Linked DNA regions of Homo sapiens: region 2 is linked to region 1. Evidence: fine-mapped expression QTL. A gene starts in region 1. The other region holds a variant in brackets. All regions are shown on one strand. Distances are from middle to middle. Region 1 holds the start of PGPEP1 (pyroglutamyl-peptidase I). Region 2 overlaps PGPEP1 (pyroglutamyl-peptidase I).

Region 1 (3,014 bases):
CCTTGTTTCTTCCTTCTTCCCTGAATCTCCTGGATCAGCCTCAATCTCCCTTCAACAGCCACAAAACACCTGTGTGCACCTTTGCTGGATTTCCCACTCTGACCCCTCCAGACAGCAGGTCAAAATGACCCCCCCACTCCTTGACTCTGAGGCCCCAGCGGAAGTTGGCGCCCCACGTGGCCCCGAGGCGGAGTCTCAGGGAGGAGAAACAGTTGGTTTGGGGGTGGGGGGGAGTCGGTGACAGCAGGGGCCCTGACTCACCAACAAACAGCCCTGGCACAAAACACAAAAAGGTTTCCGCTGAAGACAGTCCCTGGGACAGCTGGGAGAGCCCGAGGTCCCCGGACCCCCACCTGCCCCTGCCTTGGGAGAGTAGCCCCCCAGGAGCGCAGGGCGCGGCGAGCAGTGACTGGGAGGTTCATTTGTCACTGGGACACTTCCTGCCCGCAAATCGGCCTTTGTCCCCTGGGGCCAGGGGTTGGGGGAGCGGTGTGGGGACAGGCTGGACCTCGGAAGGGGCAGGGAGGAAGGGTCCAGTCCAGCCCGCAGGCCAGACAGAGGAGGCAGGTGCCAGGAGGGTCACCATCCCCACCTTGGGAGGAAAGGACGCCAGGGGGGCCTGCGCAGCGCCGGGCTTTTGCCCGGCCCCCCAAGCCCCGCGCCCGACTGCCCTGACTCCCGACCCTGGGACCCCCAAGGCTCCTCCTCCTCCACTTTCCAGGAAGCCTGGGCTGCGCGGGGCTCCCGCGGGTGATGACACCTTCCAAATCTGAGAGGACTTCCAGCACCTGCCCCTCTCGGCCCCGCAGTCCCGGAGCCGCCCCCGCCTCTGCCCCCGGCCGCTGCCGCTACAGCCCCCATCAGCCAGCGTACCCGTCACTACCACCGCCTTCCTCGGCTGCTCCATGGCGGGATCGGGCTGTGCCTCGGACCTGCTTCTGTTGCGACTGGCGCGACAGCTGCTGCCGCTGCAGCCTCTCGGCCGCGCGAGGCCACGCCCCTGTCAAGCCCCCGGCCTCGCCCCCGGTCAGCCGCTCGGCGTGCGCGCCCCCGGGCCCGAGACGCAGCGTGCGCGCCCTGCGCCCCGCCCCCGTCGGCTAGGCCCGGTATTCCCCAGCCTCCGTTTCCCCGTCTGCAAAATGGGAACATCTTATGCCGTAGTGTGTAGCCGCTTGCACGCACTGAGCCAGGTGCTGGGGATGAGCCGGTCCTTTATTCTGCAAGGGTTCATTGAGGGCCTGCCCTATGCATGCATACTGCGCAGAATTAGGGAGGGAAGTCCCCGCGAGCAAGGCCCGTTTTCCAGATAAGGAAACTGAGGCACAGAATGCCACTTCCCCGAGGTCACTCGCCTCAAGGGGTCACAGGAGCAGCATTCAGGCCAGGAAGTTGGCGGGGGTGGGGGAGGACAGAGTAAAAAAGGAAAAACACGACAACCATATTTGTGTGGTGCCAGAAGTTTCTCTGCAGGCCCCCATGGTCCTAGGAGGCTAATGGGGGAGGGCGATTGTACCTGCTGTTCCCTCTGCCGGAACACACCCCGCAGGTACCTGCGAAGCTGGCCTCCTTCAGGCCTCAGCTCCAGTGTTCCAATGTCGCCTCCTCCCAGGGGCCCTCCTCCTGTCCTGGCTGTCACCTCCTCCGAGGGGTGAACTGTCACTTTCTCCTTGTGGCCTTCTCTGGCTATCACCTCCCTGCTATCCTATTACCTCCTCTGAGGGTTCCTTCTGGCCCTCCTTGGCTGAAATGACCTCACTGCTACCCCCCAGTGGTTCCATCTCATTCCCTGGTTCCATCCTCTTCATAGCAATAAAGCTCAGAAATAATTTCCTTTCTCTCTCTTTTTTTTGGAGACAGGGTCTCACTCTGTTACCCAGGCTGGAGTGCAGTGGCAAAATCATAGCTCTGTAACTTTGACCTCCAGGGCTCAACTGATCCTCACATCTCAGCCTCCTGAGTAGCTGGGACTACAGGTGTGTGGCACCACACCCAGCTAATTTTTGTATTTTTGTAGAGATGGGGGTTTCATAGTGTTGCACAGGCTGGTCTCGAACTCCCGAGCTCAAGCAATCCGCACACCTTGGCCTCCCAAAAGTGCTGGGATTACAGGTGTAAACCAGCACACCTGGCCAGAAATCATTTTTAATTTTTTTTAGCTTTTAAGTTTTGGGGTACATGTGCAGGTTTGTTATATAGATAAACTCGTGTCATGGGGTTTGTTGTACAGATTATTTAGTCCCCCAGGTATTATTAAGCAGAAATTATATATGTATTTATTTATTTGAGACGTAGTTTCACTCTTGTCACCCAGGCTGGAGTGCAGTGGTGTGATCTTGGCTCACTGCAACCTCTGCCTCCCGGGTTCAAGCAATTCTCCCACCTCAGCCTCCCAAGTAGCTGGGATTACAGGCGAGTGCCGCCATACCCAGCTAATTTTGTATTTTTAGTAGAGAGGGAGGTTCACCATGTTGGCCAGGCTGGTCTCGAACTCCTGACTTCAGGTGATCCACCCTTTTCAGCTCCCAAAGTGCTGGGATTACAGGCGTGAACCACTGCCTCCGGCCCCCTCCCCAGGTATTATTAAGCAGAAATCATTTAGTATGGTCACAGCCTCTCTGGTTGGCTTCCCGTTTCCTCCGACATAGAGATGAGAACTTCTAGAGGAGGAAGCGTTGTTCTGTTAGAGCTGCGTCTCAACACCCAGCACATCCCCAGGCACATTCTGCCAACATTCATCAGAGACCAGAATTCCTCTAAAAACAGGTAGAAAATGAAAGCTGAGTTTCTGGCCACATCTTCAGAAACAGGACTGGACCTTGGACTTGGGTCACGAATTTTTTTTTTTTTTTTTTTTTTAGACAGGATCTTGTTCTTTTGCCCAGGCTGGAGAGCAATGGAGCGATCACAGCTCACTGCAGCCTTAATCTCCAAGGCTAAAGCAATTCTTCCACCTCAGCCTCCCGAGTAGCTGGGACTACAGGCGCGTGCTGCCATGCCCGGCTAATTTTTATATT
Region 2 (2,500 bases), 27 kb before region 1:
GGACTACAGGTGCTTGACACCACAACTGGCTAATTTTTTTTTTTAATTTCTGTAGAGATGGGGTCTCGCCATGTTGCCCAGGGCTGGTCTCGAACTCCCGGGCTCAAGCAATCCTCCCACCTCAGCCTCCCAAAGCACTGGGATCACAGACATGAACCATCTCCAGGATTCCCCTCCTTGCCGAGAAACTACTGCCATCTGGGACATTTCCTTCACACATCTGGCTCTGATGGGGAAGCTGTGATTTCGGCCCCCACCCCCTGTCCCTGCCCAGCCCTGCCTCTCCAAGTGGCCTCAGGTTTGTTCCAGCCCTTGATTGGAGCAGGTGGGCTAGGTGGCCCCAAGCTCAGCCCACCCACCTTGAATTCCTGCTTCTTCCTTTCTTTCCTTTCCACTCCATCTTATTTCTTTTTTGAGCTACATCCCCACACGCATGCAACTGACCTTCTTTGGGGTGGGGAGGGGGTGCTAGGGGCCGAATAAAGGAATAAAAGTGCGCAGACTTGGGCATCTTAAAAGAGATGCCATCATCAAGTTGGTCAGGGTACCAGGTGCCCTGATCACTGTCCCTGCACCCCTGTTCCCTGCCTCAGCACCCTCCATGAGGACTCATCAGGGAAGCCCCCCCAATCACTTCTCACCTTTCTCCCCCAGCCTTCCCACCACACCCCTCAGCCTGTCTTTTCACCATTGACACTTGCCACCCCTATTCCTCTTCCCAACACCTGCCAAGTCCCACCCACCTTGCAGACCCTTCCTATGCCACCTGTAGCCCCTACCCCAGGCTCTGAAAATGAGGCAAGAGGGAATGGGACTTGGTCCTTCCCTTCTTGCATGAGGATTTTTTTTTTTTTTTTTTTTGAGACAGAGTCTTGCTGTGTCACCCGGGCTGGACTACAGTGGTGTGATCATGGCTCACTGGGGCTTCAACCTCCCAGGCATAGGTGATCCTCCTGCCTCAGCCTCCTGAGTATCTGGGACCACAGGCATGCACCACCACATCTGGCTAATT[C/T]TTGTATGTTTTGGTAGATATGGGATCTCTTGCTATGTTGCCCAGGCTGGTCTTGAACTCCTGGCTCAAGGGATTCTCCTGCCTCAACCTCCCAAAGTGCTAGGATTACAGGTGTGAGTAACCACACCTAGCCCACATGAGGATATTTTAAGCCAAGACCCAACAAAGGTGGAAAAACACACCAGAGAGTGCACAGATGAGTTCCACCAAAAGAAAAATATTTGTAAAAAACTTGGCCAGGCGCAGTAGCTCACACCTGTAATCCCAGCACTTTGGGAGGCCAAGGCAGGCAGATCACCTGAGGTCAGGATTTCAAGACCAGCCTGGCCAACATGGTGAAGCTGCATCTCTACTAAAAATACAAAAATTAGCCAGGTGTGGTGACGGGCGCCTGTAATCCCAGCTACTCGGGAGGCTGAGGCAGGAGAATTGTGTAAACCCAGGAGGTGGAGGTTGCAGTGAGCCGAGATCACGCCATTGCACTCTAGCCCGAGTAACAGTGTGAGAATCCATCTCAAAAAATAAAAATAAAAAATAACAATGAGAAAAATAAAATGAGCCAAATGTTGTGCATTATGAGGAAGGATGGGATACTGGCTTGACTGGGTAAGGAAATGTGAAACCACTGCAAGAATACAAAGATGACACACACACACGTGACAATGAGCAGACAATAGGTTATATCTCTAAGGAGCTATGTCACACAGTGCTTTAAACACAGAGGTGAAATGAAGACAAAAGAAAGATGGAAGTGTGGAGCCCGGGGCAGGTGCTTAGCTCAGTTCAGGCCTGGCACATCCCCTTCCCCATTTTGTCCCTGTCTTGGCTAGACCTGTTTTCTCCTCAGAGGCCCACAGACCAGACCTTTGAGGAATAGAGCAAGATGAAACCTGAAGTTGCTTTCCACCAGACCTCTGGGTGACCCCTGAGTCTTCAGTTGTTCCCCACATTCAAAAGAGGCCACAGCTTCCCTTCACAGAAGCTGGGGGGACAGATGCAGTGATGTCTCCCACACTCTGGATTTCTCAGGACACAGAGCTACCAGGGGTGTGGAGGGGGCATTTCCAGCAAAAAAAAAAGCTGGCATGGAGGGAACAATAGTGTCCCTACTCATTTCCACCTGTCAGTTACAGTCCACACCCACTGCCAGGCGCCCACTGCAAGTCACCCGCCAGCATCCACCTTCCCCTCCAGAGAAAGCCCAAGACTTGGAAAATGTGTTTCACAGAAACCCATCAACCCCGTTCCCAAACTATCTAGAAACCCAACAGAGGTAGGAACCACTGCCAGCATCGGAACTGGAGACAAGGAAGGTGAACGCTGAAGAAAACAAAACTCTCAGCTGTTTTAAGAAAGAACTGGGCTGGGTGCAGTGGCTCATGCCTGTAATCCCAGCACTTTGGGAGGCCGAGAAAGGAGGATCAGTTTGAGTCCAGGAGTTCGAGACCAGCCTGGGCAACATGGTGAAACCCTGTCTGTATAAAAAAT

What was found. PIP is the estimated chance that this variant, and not a neighbour inherited with it, causes the effect. A credible set is the group of variants that fine-mapping cannot tell apart.
Region 2: its variant is the best candidate, but not a certain one, in a credible set for the expression of PGPEP1 in neutrophils (BLUEPRINT, PIP 0.61).

Annotation. Positions count from the first base shown.
Region 1 is chr19:18,338,575-18,341,588 of GRCh38, reverse strand. It overlaps PGPEP1 (pyroglutamyl-peptidase I), which reads right to left and starts at 991. Exons shown (of 5, transcript NM_017712.4): 1 at 874-991. The coding sequence starts at 907. RefSeq lists an enhancer at 434-1,121 and a silencer at 953-1,142.
Region 2 is chr19:18,365,517-18,368,016 of GRCh38, reverse strand. PGPEP1 (pyroglutamyl-peptidase I) reads right to left here. Exons shown (of 5, transcript NM_017712.4): 5 at 1-2,500. Among named protein-coding and RNA genes, the nearest start is that of GDF15, 19 kb to the left of the region's middle. The variant C/T (reference allele first, on the strand shown) is at 1,013.